Regions from separate parts of the Homo sapiens genome. Here region 1 is linked to region 2. Evidence: fine-mapped expression QTL. A gene starts in region 2. The other region holds a variant in brackets. All regions are shown on one strand. Distances are from middle to middle.

Region 1 (9,931 bases), 40 kb after region 2:
AGAGGGCTTCCTGGAGGCGTCGCACTTGGTATGTGGACCCAGATCTAGTTAACGCAGAGAGTTCCCGGTTAGACCTGCGCTACTACTCGCCTGTAGCCCACGCGCTCAGAGAGTGGCTGGAGCCCCCTGTTGAAATGGTGGGACTTAGGATACACTGGGTTCGAGGAACTATGTGATGAGGACAGATCTCACCCGTTTCTCTCTATTTTATGTATTTGAATGTGGCTGGTGGGGCGCGCTTTACAACTCTTGGGGCCCGGAGGCCACCTGCAGGAGCCGCTGTGCCTCTCACCTCTGCCGGCTGCCGCCCCGGGACATGAGTCGGGGGTTCTGGGTGCTCCACGTGGAGTCTCACGCTGGGCCACGCGGGGCTCCGGGGGTGGCGTCTGACCCGAGCCCGGCCTCCGCAGAGTTCTCTGTGGCCCATGACCTTCGGCCTGGCCTGCTGCGCCGTGGAGATGATGCACATGGCAGCACCCCGCTACGACATGGACCGCTTTGGCGTGGTCTTCCGCGCCAGCCCGCGCCAGTCCGACGTCATGATCGTGGCCGGCACACTCACCAACAAGATGGCCCCAGCGCTTCGCAAGGTAGGCCTCGTCCCAGCCGCCCAGCCGCCCCCAGAGTGAGCTGCGCACGGACCCCGCCTCTCTTCCAGGTCTACGACCAGATGCCGGAGCCGCGCTACGTGGTCTCCATGGGGAGGTGAGTGCAGGGCGGGGGGTCTCCAGGGACAGACGTAGCGTGAGTGCTGGCCTGGCCGTGCCCTGATGGCGCTTATCAAAAGTGTCATCTACATTCAGTGAAATCCCACGTGGTCCCGGCGCTGCCCTTCAGCCGTCTCGGTGCCTCCACCCTAGGCAGATGCGCTGGTGGGCCTCTCCCCAGAACGATTCCTCCCATCCACCCCCACGCAGCAGACCCCACATTCCGCCCAGTTCTCTGCTTTACTCACACATAAGTGATGACAGGTGCTGTAGATAGTTTTATAATCTCAGCCTTCTCACTTGCCATTAGTTTTTTTTCTTTTTTTTTTTTTTTTTGAGACAGAGTCTTGCTCTGTCAACCCAGGCTGGAGTGCGGTGGAACCATCTCGGCTCACTGCAACCTCCGCCTCCCAGGTTCAAGCAATTTTCCTGCCTCAGCCTCCCAAGTAGCTGGGATTACAGGCATGCACCACCACACCCAGCTAATTTTTGTATTTTTAGTAGAGACGGGGTTTTACCATGTTGGCCAGGCTGGTCTTGAACTCCCTCAGGTGATCCGCCTGCCTCGGCCTCCCAAAGTGCTGGGATTATAGGCATAAGCCACCACGCCTGGCCTTGCCCTCATTTTTTAGTCATTTCCCCGTAACATTGAAAGGTATTTAGTCTCTTAACATTTTAAAATATTTATTTATTTACTTAAAGATGGAGTCTAGCTCTGTCGCCCAGGCTGGAGTGCAGTGGCACGATCTCAGCCCACTACAACCTCCGCCTCCCAGGTTCAAGCGATTCTCCTGCCTCAGCCTCCCGAGTAGCTGGGATTACAGGCACCTGCCACCACACCTGGCCAATTTTTGTATTTTTAGTAAAGAAGAGGTTTCACCATGTTGGCTAGGATGGTCTCGATCTCCTGATCTCGTGATCCACCCACCTCAGCCTCCCAAAGTTCTGGGATTACAGGCATGAGCCACCATGCCTGGCCAATATTTATTATTTTTATTTTTTAGAGACAGAGTCTCACTGAGTTGCCCAGGCTGGAGTGCAGTGGTGCAGTCATAGCTCACTGCAGCCTTGACCTCCTGGGCTCAAGCGGTCCCCCAACCTTAGCCTCTCAGAGTGCTGGGATTACAGATGTACTCCACTGTGCCTACTTTTTAAAATTTCTGTAGAGATCAGGTCTTGATAAGTTTACCCTTTTAAAGCGAGCAGTTCAGTGGTTTTTAGGCCACCACCTCTAATTCCAGAACATTCTCATCACCCCCAAATGAAATGCTGTCCCCATCAGCAGTCACTCTGCATCCCCTTCCGAGCCCCGGTGCCCACACCTCCCCTCCCTGTCTCTGTGGATGGGCCCGTCCTGGACATTTCACAGAAACAGGATCACACGCCGCATGGCCTTCTGTGTCCGGCGTCTCTCACTGAGCGCGACGTCCTCAAGGTGCATCCGTGCTGTGGCCTGTGTCCGAGCCTCGTGCCTTTTCTTGGCTGAATAATATCCCACTGTGTGGACATATTACTAATCTAATTCTAAACAGTTAATTAGAATATTCCAGAGTTTTCATAACCGTCTCCCACTGCTGGGCATTCAGGGTATGTCCATTTTTACGGCTGTGGGAAGCAGTGCTGGGAGTGGAGTCTGTGTGGTCTCCTGGGGTTTCCAGCTCCCTGCCCCGGGTGGACCCCAGCGCCTCACTGACAGAGCCGGAATCAGGCGAGGGTGAGGCTCAGCCGCCCCATAGACAGGGGCTGGGTGTTGGCACTGTGGCTGTCTGAAGTGGCTTTTTGTTGACACATGTGATCTGACACATCCCAGCCCCGGGAATCGGTGGTCAGGAGCCCCCTCGGGAGGGGAGCACTTTTCCCCGAGTTATCAGCCACGTGTGAGCTTGCGCCCCACTGGTCCCACAGAGGCTCTGGGAGCCTGTGCGTGTTTGCTCATTGCTTCTCCGTGACAAGTTCCAGCCTCGTAGGTGCCTGGCCTGCAGTTGAAGGCGGGTGGGGATGGGGCGAGGCCTCGTGGAGGGAGGGTGGGCAGGCGGGTCTTCGGCACACTCCCCTCACGGTGCCTCCCCAACAGCTGCGCCAACGGAGGAGGCTACTACCACTATTCCTACTCGGTGGTGAGGGGCTGCGACCGCATCGTGCCCGTGGACATCTACATCCCAGGTAGGGCCGGGACCGCACCGCCCACGAGGGAGCTGGAGACAGGGCCAGCGCCACACGGAGCCCGGCGGCCCCTGTGAGGGAGTCCCACACCCCCAGCAGACGGCGGGCTCCCCCATCCTATGGATGGGCCGACTCGGAGCGCTGCCTCTTAGTGGAGCCTGTCCCCTGTGAGAAGTCGGCGATGTATTCAGGCATCAGAGGGATCAGAGGGAGCAGGGGAAGCTGAGTGGAATTCCTGACACACGCCTGGTTTACAGCAGTTTCATATGGTCCTACCTGGCACAAACCAAAGACCTGCAGTTAGAAATACCAAGCGAGAAGGTTCCTGGGGGCCAAGGACACTGTCCCGCGCCCTCAGCCTTACAGAAGGGCACGCAGGACTCCCTGGGACCCGGGGTGGCCGGATTTGGCAAATGAAAACGTGGGAGGCTTAGTTTGACTGTGAGGTTAGGGTGAATTTGACCATCAGGAAAACTGTTAGTAGTAATTGTTTAGTACGAGTATATCCCAACAATATTTGGGCTATACTGACACTAAAAAGAGCATTGGCTGCATACCTGAAATTCACATCGCACCGGGAACATTCTTTATATCTGGTGATCCCGTGGGACTCTTGCACCTCACGTGGTCCCACGAGGGCCATCCCCCCGGGCGTTCACCTTGACAGTGGTCCACGGTAGGCAGGCTTGGAGGTGGCGCTCATGTGGGACAGGGGACAGAGTCCTGTTCTTGGCCACCCTGTGCTGCGTGCGGCATTAGCTCATGCGCAGAGAGCCCAGCCCTGAGTCCCGAGTCTGGGGGTTTGGGCAAGCGAGAGGCACATCCTGGTGCCTCTCAAAAGTGGAGGAACAGGCTCTGACTTTGGATTCCGCTTCCCTGGAAAGGGCGTTGATTTGTTCAGCGTTCTGCACGGTTCAGGTCACCCCGGGGGCAGTGGAGAGGGCAGCCTGGGCCTCCCTGTGACTTGACAGCACAGAGAGGTCCATCCTGGGGTCAGGAGCTCTGCCCATGCCCCTGGCGTCTTCCCCTGCAGTGCAGACCAATGGGGCAAGTTGCGAGTGTGGACTGTACTCCTCCCTCCTTGCAGACTGAGCTCCTCCCTCCCTGGGGACCGCGCTCCTCCCTCCCTGCGGACTGTGCTCCCTGTCTGGGGACTGCGCTCCTCCCTCCTTGGGGACCGTGCTCCTCCCTCCCTCCCTGCGGACCGCGCTCCTCCCTCCCTGGGGACCGCGCTCCTCCCTCCCTGCGGACCGCGCTCGGCCCTCCCTGGGGACCGCGCCCCTCCCTCCCAGCGGACCGCGCTCCTCCCTCCCTGGGGACCTCGCTCCTCCCTCCCTCCCTGCGGACTGTGCTGCTCCCTCCCTGCGGACTGTGCTTCTCCCTCCCTTGGAGCAGCCTGGACTTGCCAGAGCTCTGCCAGGTGGGGCCTGGCCGCCCTTTCCCAGGCCCTGCAGTGGCCTTGTCCTTTCTCACCTGTTTCCACTCCTGCTGTCCCCGTTGGGCCCTGGGCTTCGTCCTCTTGCTCAAGCCCTTTGTTCTGAACCTGCGTGGCAGCCGGGACTGGGGGATCCCCAGCAAAGAGCTCTGGCTTGGGGCTCAGAAAGAGGGTCATCGGGTCCTCGTGGGATGCCCGGGCTCTGGGCCACCTCCCCTCCCTCCGCCCAGCCTCCCTGCCTCCATCTCCGTCCAGGGCAGCCCCGGGCCCTGCTCCCCACTGCTAAGTGTGTCTGCTGAGCGCTGGCCCCCATTGAGTCCTGAGGGCTGGGGCCGGGGGCCGGGTTAGTGAGGTCAGCGTCTTGTCCGAGAGGTCCCTGTGACAGCCCGGGATGAGCCACGGGTGGAGGGCAGTGGGGCCTTGCCCAGGGGAGGACCCCACTCTTCCTGCAGGGACCTCCCCTGCGCCGGCTCCCAGTCCCTGGCACTGCGCCCACCCAGGGCTGTCAGCCTCCACCTTCAGAGGCCGGCCCGGGAAACCCTTCCAAAGCCGAGCCGGCTGCGCTGTGCACGCGGTCACGCGGGCTCCGGCTGCGGGAAGCGAGACTGAGGCAAGGTCCCTGCAGGCTGCCCACCTACGGCCGAGGCCCTGCTCTACGGCATCCTGCAGCTGCAGAGGAAGATCAAGCGGGAGCGGAGGCTGCAGATCTGGTACCGCAGGTAGCGCCGCCGCCGCCGCCGCCGGAGCCTGTCGCCGTCCTGTCCCCAGCCTGCTTGTGTCCCGTGAGGTTGTCAATAAACCTGCCCTCGGGCTGCCGCCTCCCAGTGTGGTGTGTGGGTGAAAGGAGCCGGGGACGTGGGGGGATCACAGACCCCCTGCGGCGTGCCGCCCTTGGGCTGGGGGCGGTTGGAGCAGAGCCGGGGGCAGAGACGGGCACTGTGCCTGCCAGCAGGGTCCTTTCCCGCTGCTCTGCGAAGACCCTGGGGTGGACATCGTGGCCCAAAGTCCCGAGCGTGGAAGGCCGCACACCCATCCTTCCTGGGAGGGCCCTGACTCAGTCTCCCTCTATGCCCTAAGGCAGGCTGAGCAAAGCCCGTCTGAGCCTGCCCCGGGGTTCAGAGTGTGGCCTGTGGCCTGCGTGTGGACTTGGGCAGGTCGCCACTGCCCTCTGGCCCATTTCCAGGCGGTGGCATGGGCTGGTTAGCTGAGGGCTGGGGCCAGGGAGATGGGGAGGTGGCACCTGGTCCAAACCAAAGGGCTGCAGGGCAGGACTGTGAGCCTCACAGGCTGTCTGACCCCACTTTGGGGACCCTCTCCACCCAGGGCTTTCGGGGAACCCTGACTCCACCCCACCAGCCCCTTCATCCGTCGAAGTCCAGGCCTCATCAGGGACGTGCATTCATTCAGCAAACGTCCCATCTTCCTGTGTTCAGCGCCAGATGCCGCCGGTGCTGGGACCTCGCTCTGCAGGCCCACCCTGCATGCCTGCTGCACACCAGGGACAGTTCTGGGGATCGGCAGTTATGACGGGCCAGGCTGGGATGGGGCCCGGGAGACTGGGGCGGGGGTGGGGAAGAGGCACCCAGCCCAGCCGGGTCAAGCAGCCTGGAAGCAGGACATGCTGGGGTGGGGACAGGGCGTCAGCCAGCGGAACAGCAGCCCTGGGCCAGAGTGCAGAGCACAGGAGCCGGCCTTCTCTCAGGGCAAGGAGGTCAGTGGAGGGGGCGAGCAGGACGGCCCCAGGAAGATGGGCGGGCTGCACACATGTGGATGCAGGGGGCAAAGTGGGAGGCATGGGGTGACCAGCTGGGCACAAGGGCACAGACAGGCAGGACCCGGGATGTTCCTGGGGCTGGGCAGGTGGGGCTGCCCCTGCAATGGGCCCAGCAGGGGCGATGCCTCCTGAGAGGAAACCACATCTGGAAATGGGAGGCTTGGGGAACGGGGCTGTCAGCAGCCACGCCCCTCCTGGGGCGGGAGGAGGGGAGCTCAGGGTGTGCTGGGGCGGGCAGAGAAGTGGGTTCCTGCCTGGGGTGGGCAAAGATCCTTGTCCCACCCACACCCCGGCCGTGGTGCTGCCACCCCCTGAGACCCTGACCTAGTTACCCCCTTCCCTGACCCCACTGCAAAGGGTCAGGTGGCTTTCATCTGAGGAAGGGACATCGGGCATCAGCTGGAGATGTCTGCTATGGGCAAGACAGTGGGGGGGGCGGGGCGGATCCTGGGGCCGCTCAGAAACCTGGAGGGGAGTCACCCACTTTTCCTGTGTCCATGGGATGGGCGGGAGGTGAGGGAGCAGCCGCTGGAAGTAACAGTCGCACGCTCACTGCCGACTGGCCAAGCCCAGCGCCGGCGTTTACTTCACCTCAGGGACCCTGCAGTGGGCAGCAGTGACCCTCACAGAGAAGCTGGGAAAGCTGCTGGTGACACACAGCTGGGATCAGCCCTGGGCTGGTGGGACCCCTCACAGAGAAGCCGGGAAAGCTTCTGGTGACACACAGCTGGGATCAGCCCAGGGCTGGTGCGACACCCTGGACTCCCGGCCAGGAAGGCACGGAGGAGGGCATGGGTGTGGCCGGGCC[G/A]GGGTGGGGGCTCAGCCTTTGGTCACCAGGGGCGTGATCATCTGTGGGAAGGCGTAGTAGCGGCAGTCGGCCGGTGGGACCAGCGCCATCACCTCCGTACGGATGTTCTCCCTCCGGAAGCCGGCCTCCAGCAGCGCGGGCACCTGCGTCTCCTGGTCGGGGATGGCACCAGGTCACCTCTGAGGGCCATGGGGGTCACGTGCACCCTGGCGCCCACCCCTCATTGAAGAGTGTTTACAGATGGCAAGGCCCGGGTGGGCGGCTGCAGCTCCCGTGGGCACGTGGCAGGGCAGCCCTGGAAGCCCAGGTGTGAACGGGAATCTCCAGCTCCCCAGTGCGGGCAGCAGCTTCCCGGCTGTCCTGGAACCCCAGCCCCACACTCGAGCCACCCCCGGGCACCTACTCCACAGTTCTCCAGACCTTGCCAGTGTGGCGGGTGGAGCCAAAGAATCACACCAGAAAAAGAACACAGGCCACTAGTTCCCATTTTGGAAGAAAAGCTGCCCCAGGGGCCACAGGCACCCAGCCGGCTCTCACAACAGCAGCCCAGGGCAACCACATAGAGCCCTTCTCAGATAGGCCGCCTCCACCAGGCAGAGGGAACAGCGAGACAAGCACTGCTGAACCAGCAAAGACAGCCAGGTGGAGGCAGCTGGAGGGAGGGGAACACGCAGGGCTTAGGCTGAACCACAGGGCACTGGGGAGCCATGGGAGGTTGTTGAGCTGGTGAGGGACTTTGATTTCCATTTTTTTTGTTTTTGTTTTGTTGAGATGGAGTCTCGGTCTGTTGCCCAGGCTGGAGTACAACGGTGCAATCTCGGCTCACAGCAACCTCCGCCTCCCATGTTCAAGTGATTCTCATGCCTCAGCCTCCCGAGTAGCTGGAATTACAGGCGCCCGCCACCACGCCTGGCTAACTTTTGTATTTTTAGTAGAGATGGGATTCTGCCATGTTGGCCAGGCTAGGCTCAAACTCCTGGGCTCAAGTGATCCACCCGCCTTGGCCTTCCGAAGTGCCGGGATCACAGGTGTGAGCCACCACGCCCAGCCTGATTTCCATTTTTTTTTTAAATTTTCTTTCTTTCTTTCTTTCTTTCTTTTTTCTTGAGACAGGGTCTGGCTCTGTTACCCAGGCTGGAGTGCAGTGGTTCGATCTGGGCTCACTGCAACCTCTGCCCCTGGGGCCCAAGCAATCCTCCTACCTCAGCCTCCCAAGTAGCTGGGAGTACAGGCACACGCCACCACGCCCAGCTAGTTTTTTGTATTTTTTTTTTTTAGGAAAGATGAGGTCTTGCTCTGTAGCCCAGGCTGGTCTTGAACTCCTAGGCTCAAGCAATCTGCCCACCTCGGCCTTCCACAGTGCTGGGATTATAGACCTGAGCCACTGCTCCTGGCAGCCACTGCGCCAGGCAAAGGACTTTGATTTCTAAATGAACCAGCACAGTCCAGCCCACCCAGGGGGTCAGGAAGGGACCCTCCCCAGGTAGCAAGGTGGCTCCAGCAGCCCCTTCCCACCCCCATCCAAGGTCACTTCCTGGAGACCCATGGGGAACTTCAGGTGGGCGCACCTCAAACATGATGGTGATGTCTGAGTACTTGGACTTCATCAGCTCCCCCCAGGAGGTGAGGTTGCAGTAGGTGAGGACGCCCCCCGGCTTCAGCAGGCGAAAGGCGTGGTTCTGTGGAAGGGGAGTGGCCAGTGGTCAGGACGGAGGTGGGGGTGTGGGCAGAGGGGCTTCCCCGAGGGCCTCCCGCATCCCAGCAAGTCAGAGAGAACCACCTTGATGAAGTTGAACTGGTGTGTGTGCCAGGTCTCCTCCGAGAGTGGGTACGTGTCGTACAGGATCCCTGCACGGAGAACAGAAGCCCACGCGGTCAGGGCCGGGCTCAGCGCCTCACCCAGCCTCACCCGGCTCATCCCCCAGCGGGTGGAGGTGCAGTGAGACGGGGCCGTGGGTAGAGGTGGGGCTCCCACACAGGCTTGAGAACCCCGAGATCGCCTCCAGGGCCCCTCCGTGAGCATGCCCATCCCCGGTGCTCCGCCATCCCACAGCCAGGCCCACACCCACTTGGGCTCTGTCCCCCCAGTGCACATCAGAGGGACCCCCACAAGCAAAGGAGGGGCTGCATTGGAGCTGGGGAGGCCCACCCTGTGATACGTCCCCTCACCCCTCACCATCAAAGTGACCGTCAGGCAGGGTGGGTGCCACATCCTCCCACAGGCCTTTCAAGGGGATGACCTTGCAGAGGGGAAAAGAAAAAGAGAGGACAGGGTAGAGAGGTCCCCAGGATCTCCCCACCTGCAGAAAGGGAGCGGCCAGGGGGACTCCCGAGAGAGAAGACCACCTCCTCCACCTCTGACAGCCCCAGGCCCCCAACCCCCAGGAAGCAGTGCCCTCACCCCAAGGAGTGGGGGTCCTGGAGGGCCTGCGGGCAGAGGGGCACCTTGTGTGTCTGCCGTGGGGCCCAGTCCCGGAGCCGCTGGAAGACGCCGTCATTGCACTCGATGATCCAATGCTCATCAATGGGCGCCTCCTGCACCTTTGACGCTGCGATGGCCATGCCAAAGCCCACCTCCAGGACCCGGCCCCCTGGGCAGACACAGGGCGCCTGGCATCACTAGGTGGGGCGGGCTTAGGAGGCTGCCTGGAGGAGGGGCACAGGGCAGGGCAGGGCTGGGGAGACTGCCTGGAGGAGGGGGCGCAGGGCTGGGCTGGGGGTCTGCCTGGAGGGGGGCGTGCAGAGCAGGGCTGGAGAGGCTGCCTGGAGGAGGGGGTGTGGGGCAATGCTGGGGAGGCTGCCTGGAGGAGGGGGTGCGGGGCAGGGCTGGAGAGGCTGCCAGGAGGAGGGGATGCAGGGCTGGGGAGGCTGTCTGGAAGAGGGGGTGCAGAGCAGGGCTGGGGAGGCTTCCTGGAGGAGGGGGCACAGGGTAGGGCAGGGCTGAGCTGGGGGTCTGCTTGGAGGAGGGGGTGCAGGGCTGAACTAGGCTATGTGAGTCACATTTGCCACAGGACGGGAGGGCACCCTGGGCCAGCATGGACAGA
Region 2 (11,002 bases):
GTGGAGGATCGCTTGAGGTCAGAAGCTCGAGACCAGCCTGGGCAACAGAGCAAGACTGTGTCTCTACAGAAAATTTCTTTTTCTTTTCTTTTTTTTTTTTTTTGAGACAGAGTCTCAGTCTGTTGCCCAGGCTGGAGTGCAGTGGCGTGATCTTGGCTCACCGCAACCTCTGCCTCCCAGGTTCACGCCATTCTCCTGCCTCAGCCTCCCCAGTAGCTGGGACTACCAGCGCCTGCCACCATGCCTGGCTAATTTTTTTGTATTTTTAGTAGAAACGGGGGTTTCACCATGTTAGTCAGGCTGGTCTCAAACTCCTGACCTCAGGTGATCCACCGCCTCAGCCTCCCAAAGTGCTGGGATTACAGATGTGAGCCACTGTGCCCAGCCACTTTTCTTTTTTCTTTTTTTTTTTTTTGAGTTGAGGTCTCATTCTGCTGCCCAGGCTGGAGTGTAGTGGCACCATCTCGGCTCGCTGCAATCTCTGCCTCCTGGATTCAAACAATTCTCCTGCCTCAGCCTCCCAAGCAGCTAGGATTACAGGCACCTGCCACCACGCCTGGCTAATTTTTGTATTTTTAGTAGAGACGAGGTTTCACCATGTTGGCCAGGCTGGTCTTGAACTCCTGACCTCGTGATCCGCCCACCTTGGCCTCCCAAAGTGCTGGAATTACAGGCGTGAGCCACCGCACCCGGCTGGCCTTTTTTTTTTTTTTTTTTTTGTAGCAACAGGGTCTCCCTGTATAGCCCATGCCTGAGTGCAGTGGAGCGATATCGGCTCACTGCAGCCTCGACCTTCTGGGCTCAAGTCATCCTGGTCTCCCCAAGACAATCCTGACTTCCGTGGAGCCCCTGGGTCTCCAGAAACACCAGTGACAGCCCTCTCTCTTGTGTTCTGAATTTCCTATGTAAAAACCTGGCTTGTGTGAAGGGGGCTGGTAATTGGACATCTGTAAAGCTCCTTGGCAGTGGGGCCCCGTCAAAGCTGGCAGTCGTAGCTCCGTGTTAACAAGGTCAAGGTCTGGTCAAGGTTTCCAGTGTGGTCCCCTTATGGCCTAATTAGGGACTTGAATGGGTTGGAACACTGATTGAGTTTCAGTTCAGAGGCTATTTTGATGTTACAGTTCAATCACTTTAGAAAATATAGATTCAGTTCTGGTTCAGGCTGGAACACTAGGTGTGTGTCTGTGTGTTTTAATCTTTGATTTAGTTCATGGTTCAGTATCAAACTTAATACATTTTTCACCCATCATCAGATTAACAAAGATGAGAGAAATAATCACGCCCGGCCCTCGTGCAGGGTGTTAGATGGGCCGTGGTAATGCGGGGCTGCCGCCAATGTGAATTGGTACCTTTCTGAAAAGCAACTTGACGTCATCTGTCAAACGCCTTGAGGATGTCCAGACCCTCAGACCCAGCAATTTCCGCCTCCAGGGATTTATCATAAGGATATAATCAGAGGTGCACCAAGATTTACATAGGAGAGTTGCTTTCTGCGGCCTTATTTAAATCATGGAAAAATCAGGAATCGCTGAAATGTCTCACAATAGCGGTCTGGTTAATAAAAATACGATAGCGACCGTTGTCTTACAACGCCTTGAGTAGCAGAGGGAATTGTGTATGATACATTTCCCGCAGAAGGGGAAACGTTTTAATTAAAGCCATAACTGACGTGGAGCCGGAAGAAGCCTGTGAAAGGACGTTCTTGCATCGACCTGCCAGGCCTTTGTGCTGCCTTAGAAGCAGCCGCTTTATTGCAACTGTGAATCTCTATGGTTTAGGAGAGAAATTCATTCTTTAAACAAAATTTGAGTGAGCGCTCGGTGACACGGACTGGGCTTACAATGGTGAAGAAAACAGGACTCAGGGAACTCACAGACGAATGGAGAAGACATTTAATAAAATAAGACCTAACATTTCACCACTGGCACAAGTACTTTAAAAGCATTAATTTATTTAATACCAGAGCCAGAGGCCAGGCACGGTGGCTCACGCCTGTCATCCTAGCGTTTTTGGGAGGTCGAGGTGGGTGGATTATGAGGTCAGGAGTTCGAGACCAGCCTGGCCAACATGGTGAAACCGTCTCTACTAAAAATACAAAAAGTAGGCGGGTGTGGTGGCGTGTGCCTGTAATCCCAGCTACTGGGGAGGCTGAGGCAGGAGAATGGCTTGAACCTGGGAGGTATAGGTTGCAGCGAGCCGAGATTGCACCAGTGCACTCCAGCCTGGGCAACAAGAGCAAGACTCTGTCTCTAAAACAAATTAAAAAAATATACCTCATTTGAGCTCATAGGAGCTTTGAACTCCTGGGCTCAAGGAATCCTCCCATCTTGGCCTCCCAAAGTGTTGGGATTACAGGCGTGAGCTGTTGCCACGCTGTGTTTTGTTTTGTTTTGTTTTTGAGACAGGGTCTTGCTTTGTCATGTGGAGTGCAGTGGTGCAATCACGGTTCACTGCAGCCTCGACCTCCCAGACTCACGCAATCCTCCTGCCTCAGCCTCCTGGGTAGCTGGGACTACAGGTGTGCATCACCATGCCTGGCTAATTCTTTTTTGTTTTTGTACAGGCAGGGTCTCACTATGTTGCCCAGGCCTGTCTCCAACTCCTGGGCTCATGTGATCCTCCCATCTCAGCCTCCCAAAGCACCTCCCAAAGCACAGGCGGGAGCCACCGCACTGGGCCCCACTCCTCCTGAGGCAGAGGCTTGGATCTGGCACAGCACCCCTTCTGCTGTATTCCCTGGGCTGAAGCAGGTCACACGCCAGCCCAGGATTTTTTCTTTTTTCTTTTTGAGACAGAGTCAGTCTTGCTCTGTCACCCACATTGGAGTACACTGACGCGATCTCAGCTCACTGCAACCTCCGCCTCCTGGGTTCAAGAGATTTTCTTGCCTCAGCCTCCCAAATAGCTGGGATTACAGGTGCACACTACCACGCTCAGCCAATTTTTGTATTTTTAGTAGCGATGGGGGTTTCTCTATATTGGCCAGGCTGGTCTCGAACTCCTGACCTCAGGCGATATGTCTGCCTTGACCTCCCAAAGTGCTGGGATTACAGGCCTGAGCCACCGCCAGCTCAGATTTAACGTGAGAGGATATCAGAGACATAGTTCTTGCCAACCACCCACAGACCACCACCCCCATTTTATAGACAAACTGAGACGGCTGAGCAAGGTGGATCCTACCTGTGATCCCAGCACTTTGGGGAGCCGAGGTGGGAGGATCACTTGAGCCCAAAAGGTCGAAACCAGCCTGGCCAGCATAGCAAGACCCTCTCTCTACAAAAAATAAAAATCTTAGCCAGCCATGGTGGTGCGCACTGTGGTCCCAGCTACTCCGGAGGCTAAGGTGGAAGGATCATTTGAGCCTGGGAGGTTGAGGCTGCAGTGAGCTATGACTGGGCCGCTGCACTCCAGCCTGGGCCACAGAGCCAAACTTCGACTCAAAAATGTAAATAAAAATAAAAAACAAGTGAAAGGTGAACATTCTCAACTTGATAAAGGAAAAAAAATCAGTCGCTGAGGTTGCTGGGATCGACCGAAGACACAAACCTTCTATTCCCGCAAATGTGAGAAGGAAAAAGAAGTTAGAGCCGGCTTTGCTGTCGCCCCTTCCCCTTGAAGAGTCGGGGCCAGTGCGTGACGAATGCTGCTGTAAGTCTTTTAATTTTTTCCTTTTTTGAGACGAAGTCCCACTCTGTTGCCCAGGCTGGAGTGCAGTGGCGCGATCTCCCCTTACTGCAAGTTCCGCCTCCCGGGTTCAAGCGATTCTCCTGCCTCAGCCTCCTGAATAGTTGGGATTACAGGCATCGCCACCACGCCCGGCTAATTTTTCTATTTGTAGTAAAGACGGGGTTTCACCATGTTGGCAATGCTGGTCTCGATCTCCTGACCTCATGTGATCTGCCCGCCTCGGCCTCCTGCTGGGATTACAGGAGTGAGCCTGTATCTTTTTTATAGAGATGGGGTCTCGCCATGTTGCCCAGGCTGGTCTCCAATCCTTGGGCTTAAAGGATCTGCCAATTCGGCCTCCTTTGCTTTTAAAGAACTGTGGGGGCTGGCGAGGTGGCTCAGGCCTGTAATCCCAATACTTTGGGAGGCCGAGGCAGGCCGATCACCTGAGGTCAGGAGCTTGAGAGCAGCCTGATCAACATTTAGTATTCTCTACTAAAAATACAAAAATTAGCCGGGTGGGGTGGCGCGCACCTGTAATCCCAGCAGGAGGAGGCTGCAGTGAGCTGAGCTCGCGCCACTGCACTCCAGCCTGGGTGACAGAGCGAGACTCCGTCTGAAAAAAAATCAAAAACCGCTCAGGGAAAGGCCTGACACTGATGGAGCGACCGCTCCGGGGCTCCCGCCACCCGCGGCTGTTTCCGGTGCCCCCCGGGGTCTTGGGACCCTCCCAAGGTGGGTCCTGCTCTAGTTCAGAAGCTTATGACGCCTTTGCGGGGATGCCTGGCTTTGGGATCGGTTGGGATCTGCTGGAATTGGGTCCGTGGCGCGCAGCTCCCGGGCTGGGAGGTGCCGTAGGACCTGGAAGATTCTCGAAAGTTCTGGAAGGTTCTCTCAGGGATCGCCGCGGGCGGGGGAGCCTGTTTTCCCACCGAGACCCGCGAGGGCGGTGTCCGGGGTCTGACTGCAGGACAAAGGGCCGGGAGCGCGGGAGGGCGGCGCCCGGGAGCGGCCACACATGCCCCGCCAACCGGTCTCCTCAGGCAGCACTCCCGGGAAAAAGGGGTAGACGCGCGGCGGAAGGGGCGGGGCCGGCGCGCGGCCGTGGACGCCGGAGAGGGCGAGGCCGGCGCTCCTTGGGAGCGCGCGCGTCCCATTGGGCAGCGGGCGGAAGGGGGCGGAGCTTGGCGCCGCCGCGAGGCAAGCCCCGCCCCCGGCCCCGCGGGGAGCGGCGGCGGCGGCGGCGGCGGCGGTGGCGGAGGCGGTGAGCGCGGGCGGCGCGGACGGCAGCGGTTGGCGGGCGGGTCCTCCGCTGTTGCGGCCGCTGCGGCCTCCTTGCCCGGGCTTGGGGCGCCGCGCTGGGGAAAGCCGGGGGCCCGGTGAGCCCGCGGGATGCGTCCCCTCGGTTCCGCCGGGCGGGGCTGAGGCGAGGAGGCCGGGCCTGGGGGGAGGGGGGGCCCCGGCCTAGAGACTCCTCCGGGAGCGCCCGGTCCCTACCGCCGTGGGTCCCCCACTCTGCCCGGACCCCCTTTTCCGCCCCTGGCGCCGTGGGCCCCTCACTTTGCCTGGACTCCTTTTCCCGTCCCTGCCGCCCGGACCCCATCTCTTGCTTGGACCCGCTCCCCCATCCTTGCTGCCTGGACCCCTATCTCCTTCCCTGGATCCCCCTCACGTCTGCCGTGAACCCCATCTCTTGCCTGGACCCCCATCTGCTTCCCTGGATTCCCCACCCCCAACCGTGAAATCCCCCATCCCTGCCACCTGGACCCTCCGCTCCACCTCCTCCGTGAGCCCTCGTTCTTGCTCCCTGAGCCCCCCCGCTTCTGCTGTGACCCCCTTCTCTGTTGCCTGAATCCCCCGTTCCTGCAAGCCGCAACCCTTCCTCCGCCATGAAATCTTGTCCCTGCTGCCTGGACCCCTACTTCTGCTGCTGCTGTGATCCCCTCTCTTGCTGGAAACGCCACCCCTACCTCTGCTGGGAACCTCCTCTTCCCTGCTGCGGGGACGCCCCCCTCCGTTGTTGCTAAATTCCACCCCCACCCCCAAACCTCCTTTTCATTTCTGTCAACAGCCAAGCCAGTCCTTCCCATTGATGCTGTGAACGGTCTGCAGCTGTCCCCGTTCTTTCAGGGACATGGCAGCCAAAAGAGCAGTCGTTTTTCCGCTCTTATTTTTGTGTGTGTGCTGTGGTCAACTGTTAACTCCCCAAATTGGGGAGGGTTGTGAGCTTTGATTGTGTAAAATGCCTCTCCTGCCGAGGTCGGAGGCAGGTCTTCCGCACGGAGATGATTTATTCAGGAGCCTTTTAAAACTGATCTAGATAGAACCTTTGGGAGGGACTGTGCTGTATTTTATTTATGAAAAAATGCAGGCGCCTCCCTGGATACCGAGCCCCGTCGTTTCTGTTTGTCAGTCTGCTTTTTGGCATTGAGCATCTCAATGCAAGATTGTGGAATTAAACCATCTACTTGAGGCTAAGTCGAGCTAACCTTTGCCCCTGAGGGCTGTGTCTGCGTTAACATCGCCAGCAAACAGTTGTATAAACCACCGTGCAAATTTCGTTCCAGGACACATTGGCGTGAGACCTGGGAGTACGTTGTGCCAAATCATTGCCACTTGCCACATGAGTGTAAATGATGGCGGATGCCAAGTATGTCCTCTGCCGATGGGAAAAGCGATTATGGCCTGCGAAGGTGACAGCCATTATTCTGTAACTTCAGGACTTAGAAATGACTTTCGGGTGACAAGTAAAATCTTGATCAGGAGATACCTAGGATTTGCTTCAGTGAAATAATTGAGCCAGAACACGGTTGGCACTGATTCTCGTTCCCCATTTAATGGGGTTTTGGTCTAGTGCTTCCAAGGTTACACTTCCAGAAATGTCTTTTTTTTTTCACACTAAAAAAAAAAAAAGAATCAGCTGTAAAAAGGCATGTAAGGCTGTAACTCAAGGAAAGATCTGGCAAGCAGCCCTGTGATAGTAAATTATGGTCGTGTTCAGGGAATGCTTTCCAGCAATTCAGTAGACAGTGCTCAGCTGCAATGCAAAAGCCCAGGTCCTTGTCTTTGTCTGCCACTGGCCTCTCATGCCTCAGTTTCCCCATCTGTGAAACAATGGGGATTGGACCAAATATCTGAAATCCCATGGTTATAGGCCTTCAGGATTACCTGCTGCATTTGTGCTAAAGTTTGCCACTGTTTCTCACTGTCAGCTGTTGTAATAACAAGGATTTTCTTTTGTTTTAAATGTAGGTTTTGGCCCGAACCGCGACTTCAACAAAAAATAAGAGAAGAAAGGAATATTTTCTAGCTGTGCAAATCCTCTCTCTAGAGGAAAAGTTAAGTGTTGTGTTGTTTTAATACTGTTTTTTCCCGTGTAGATTTCTGATACTTCAATCCCCTACTCCCCCAAAACAGTTGAAGCCCAGCCCACTCTTAATGGGCTTATTCACCATTTGTGTAATTCATTAATGCTCATAATAACCTCATGAGAAAGCAACTAGTTTGATTTTATGTCAGTTTGGAAGCTGAAGATCCAAACGAGGCATTCTGTGAGATCTATGGAGAGATTGGTACAAACACTGAATACATGTAAATTATACTCAGGGTAGACCCTATTTGTGGTTAAAATAGGGATATTTCCTTTTTTTTTTTTTTTTTTGACTGTTTCTTAATCAGTGCCATGCCAGGAAAATAGGGATGTTTCCTTCCCAGAGATCTGTGTGTCTTTTTTCAGAAACGTCTGTGACAGGCCCATCAATTTTGAAATATTTGGTTTTTGAGCCTGTCACTCTAAACCAGCGTTTAACGTTCAAAAGGCAAATAACTGATGACCAGGCGGCACATTGTTCTGCTCCGTGAGTGTCTGGCACTGGGAAAGGTGTAGATTGTCTAGAATGACAGCAATTCCGACGCCCCAGTCAGTCCTGCGTGATTGTGGCGAGGGCGCGTCTGGCACCGGGAAGGTGTAGATCATCTAGAATGACGGCGATTCCGACGCCCCGGTCAGTCCTGCGTGATTGGCGAGGGTGCATCTGTCGTGAGAATTCCCAGTTCTGAAGAGAGCAAGGAGACTGATCCCGCGTAGTCCAAGGCATTGGCTCCCCTGTTGCTCTTCCTTGTGGAGCTCCCCCTGCCCCACTCCCTCCTGCCTGCATCTTCAGAGCTGCCTCTGAAGCTCGCTTGGTCCCTAGCTCACACTTTCCCTGCGGCTGGGAAGGTAATTGAATACTCGAGTTTAAAAGGAAAGCACATCCTTTTAAACCAAAACACACCTGCTGGGCTGTAAACAGCTTTTAGTGACATTACCATCTACTCTGAAAATCTAACAAAGGAGTGATTTGTGCAGTTGAAAGTAGGATTTGCTTCATAAAAGTCACAATTTGAATTCATTTTTGCTTTTAAATCCAGCCAACCTTTTCTGTCTTAAAAGGAAAAAAAAAAAAAAACCATTCACCAGGGTTCTTGCTGCCTGTAACCTCAGGCAGATGAATTCCTAGTTGGCTGTGACTTTTGGTTTAAGTGGAAGGTTGAGGAGGAAAATGAAAATAATTCTTTTGTTATCTAAAGGAAAACATGTTTGAAAATGTCTTGGCGGCGTTGGCTGGTGGTGTGTAACGTCGATTTTGTCTCTGCAGAATTAAGGTGAAAAGCACTGAAGTTGAGATCCTAGAGAAGTCTCAAATTGAAGCCATTGCTTCCTCGTTAGGTAAGAGCGTATTTTTAAGTGGCCACTAGGTTTTCATAAAATAAGAGGTCATTTGGGAGAATGTGAAGGCTCAGCTTTCTGGGTAAAAATTCACCCTGTTCACCATGTTTTTCTTCATACAAGGGAACGCGAATCCCCTGAGCTGAAGGAGAAGGAAAAATGGATCCGCTTTCTTAAACCTTTCCAGAATTTGCCCCTAGAACCACTCCTATTCTTGACGCCCAGAATGGTCAGTGGTGAGCATCAAGGTCATCTCGTACCCCCGTGGCCTCCAGTACACAAGACGAGGAAGGACTTTGCTGCCATAAGGGGGGAGGTCCTCCTTTTTCCTTTCCTCTTCCTATAGTAAGATTTGCTGTGGTACTGTCGCTGCCTGGCCAGTCTGGTCTCAGCCCAAGGTTTGAGAAGCAGTTGGTTGTGTGTTTAAAATTCCAGAGCAGAGCCCAAGGGAGAGAACGGGTGGCCTGGCACTGGGGTTGGTGGCACCCATTGTTTGAGGCACTGTCATGGGGGGCACGAGGCAGGTCGGAAGTGGAGCTCTCGGCTTCCCATCCATCCGGGTGCGCTTTCTCCCAGGCCTTCAGTTTAGCACCCACCTCCTTTGCACACTGTGGGTGAGAAAAGCTTTGCCTGAGTCCAGCCGGGGACTGGTCATGCACATACATGACAAGTGAGGAGCACTGGTGACTGCCTGCCCCCTAGCCACAGTTGTGCAAACCCAAACCTGCCAGCCTTCCTTCTCAAAGTGGAACTGTTTATCCCATTTGCAAATAATTGTTTCTCTTGTGAAAAGATGGACCGGAATTCCTTCCAATGATGTTTATAAAATCAGGTCTATTTTCCTGTGTCTTCCGAAAAACAGCTCTTGTTTAAAGCAGGATCCATCTCTGCATAACTTAGGCCGGGCTGACCATCATCTTGGATGGCGTCGTCCTTGTTGGCGCAGATTGTGTTGGGGGGCTGGTTGTTTGTGGGCGCCTTTAATATTCAAAGGGGAGAATACTGTTCTGATTGAGGCATTATGCCCGCTGAGTTGTGATATTACATCCATCATCTTGTTCAAATAAATAGCGCCGTATCTATATGTCGGAATGAATAAATAAAAGTGCTGCAGCAGGGAGGTTGGGCTGGAAACCAGAGGCCCACGATGCTCTTTGCTGGCTTTGAAATGCCCTTGCAAAGAAGTATTGAAAATTTACCAGCCCACAATGAGTCTTTTAAATCTCCTTTTCCTTGCTACCACCAACCCCTGCACCAACCAAGAATACGTTGCCAGCAGAGTTCTTTATTTAGTTGGCATTGGTTTTTATTGACCCTGATTGAATTTGAAATTGTAAGGCTGAGAGAGGATTTGCAAAACATTTGAATACATTTTGCTCACGGTATTGTTTTGTAACTTGGAGGAATTTATCTTTTTAGCCAATCAGGTTAAGGTCAATAAATTTGGTTTTTAAAAAAATGAAGCCTCGAATCCCGGAATGAATAGCTGTCGTTCTGTAGCCTCGTCTCCTTTTTGGGAAAATGTAGGTGAGAAATGTTAGTCCTCCCCTTCAGTGATTTAGGTATGAAACTAGCCGTCAGAATGAGACAAGCGAGCTTCTAAAGCGATGCCGTGACCGCAGTGCCTGTGCAGTGAACGTAACCGGCATTGTGTATGTTCGGTCCTTGCAGCCTCACAGAATGAGGTTCCTGCGGCACCCCTGGAAGAACTGGCCTACAGACGGTCGCTTCGCGTGGCTCTGGACGTTCTGAGCGAGGGCTCGATTTGGAGTCAAGAAAGCTCTGCAGGGACAGGTAGAGCTGACCGGTCTCTGCGAGGGAAGCCCATGGAGCATGTCTCCTCGCCCTGTGATTCGAACTCCTCATCTCTTCCCCGCGGAGACGTGTTGGGCAGTTCCAGACCTCACAGGAGGAGGCCATGTGTGCAACAAAGCCTGTCAAGTTCGTTCACTTGTGAAAAGGACCCCGAGTGCAAAGTGGACCACAAGAAGGGGCTCAGGAAAAGTGAAAACCCAAGAGGCCCGTTGGTCCTCCCAGCTGGAGGTGGTGCCCAAGATGAGAGTGGGTCCAGAATCCACCACAAAAATTGGACTCTTGCAAGTAAGAGGGGAGGAAACTCAGCGCAGAAGGCTAGCTTGTGCCTGAATGGATCTTCCCTTTCAGAGGACGACACGGAGAGAGACATGGGGAGCAAAGGAGGCAGCTGGGCAGCCCCGTCCTTGCCCTCCGGGGTCAGGGAGGACGATCCCTGTGCCAACGCTGAGGGACACGACCCCGGTCTGCCGTTGGGCAGCCTCACTGCGCCCCCAGCCCCTGAGCCCTCGGCCTGCTCAGAGCCTGGAGAATGCCCTGCGAAAAAGAGGCCGCGCCTGGATGGCAGCCAAAGGCCGCCTGCCGTGCAGCTGGAGCCCATGGCAGCAGGGGCCGCACCATCCCCCGGGCCGGGGCCAGGGCCCAGAGAGTCTGTGACCCCGCGCAGCACCGCCAGGCTGGGCCCGCCTCCCTCCCACGCCTCTGCGGATGCAACCAGATGTCTTCCTTGCCCGGATTCCCAGAAGCTGGAGAAAGGTAAAAGTTTCTCGTGGAGGAGGAGAGCGCAGAGGGTGGAGTCCTGCTCCTCCGCAGCCA

The links.
Region 1: its variant is fine-mapped to the expression of PWWP3A in whole blood (TOPMed, PIP above 0.99).

The regions. Positions count from the first base shown.
Region 1 is chr19:1,390,461-1,400,391 of GRCh38, forward strand. NDUFS7 (NADH:ubiquinone oxidoreductase core subunit S7) reads left to right here. Exons shown (of 8, transcript NM_024407.5): 5 at 411-590; 6 at 659-705; 7 at 2,782-2,870; 8 at 4,931-5,124. The coding sequence ends at 5,028. GAMT (guanidinoacetate N-methyltransferase) reads right to left here. Exons shown (of 6, transcript NM_000156.6): 2 at 9,333-9,478; 3 at 9,064-9,127; 4 at 8,668-8,735; 5 at 8,456-8,566; 6 at 6,566-7,039. The coding sequence ends at 6,899. Among named protein-coding and RNA genes, the nearest start is that of GAMT, 6.1 kb to the right of the region's middle. RefSeq lists enhancers at 5,992-6,041, 6,142-6,191. The variant G/A (reference allele first, on the strand shown) is at 6,888.
Region 2 is chr19:1,350,091-1,361,092 of GRCh38, forward strand. It overlaps PWWP3A (PWWP domain containing 3A, DNA repair factor), which reads left to right and starts at 4,869. Exons shown (of 14, transcript NM_001369789.1): 1 at 4,869-5,045; 2 at 6,234-6,359; 3 at 6,919-7,004; 4 at 8,304-8,374; 5 at 10,046-10,942. The coding sequence starts at 6,303. RefSeq lists silencers at 4,528-4,627, 4,613-4,773, 4,658-4,947, 5,008-5,077 and an enhancer at 4,670-5,555.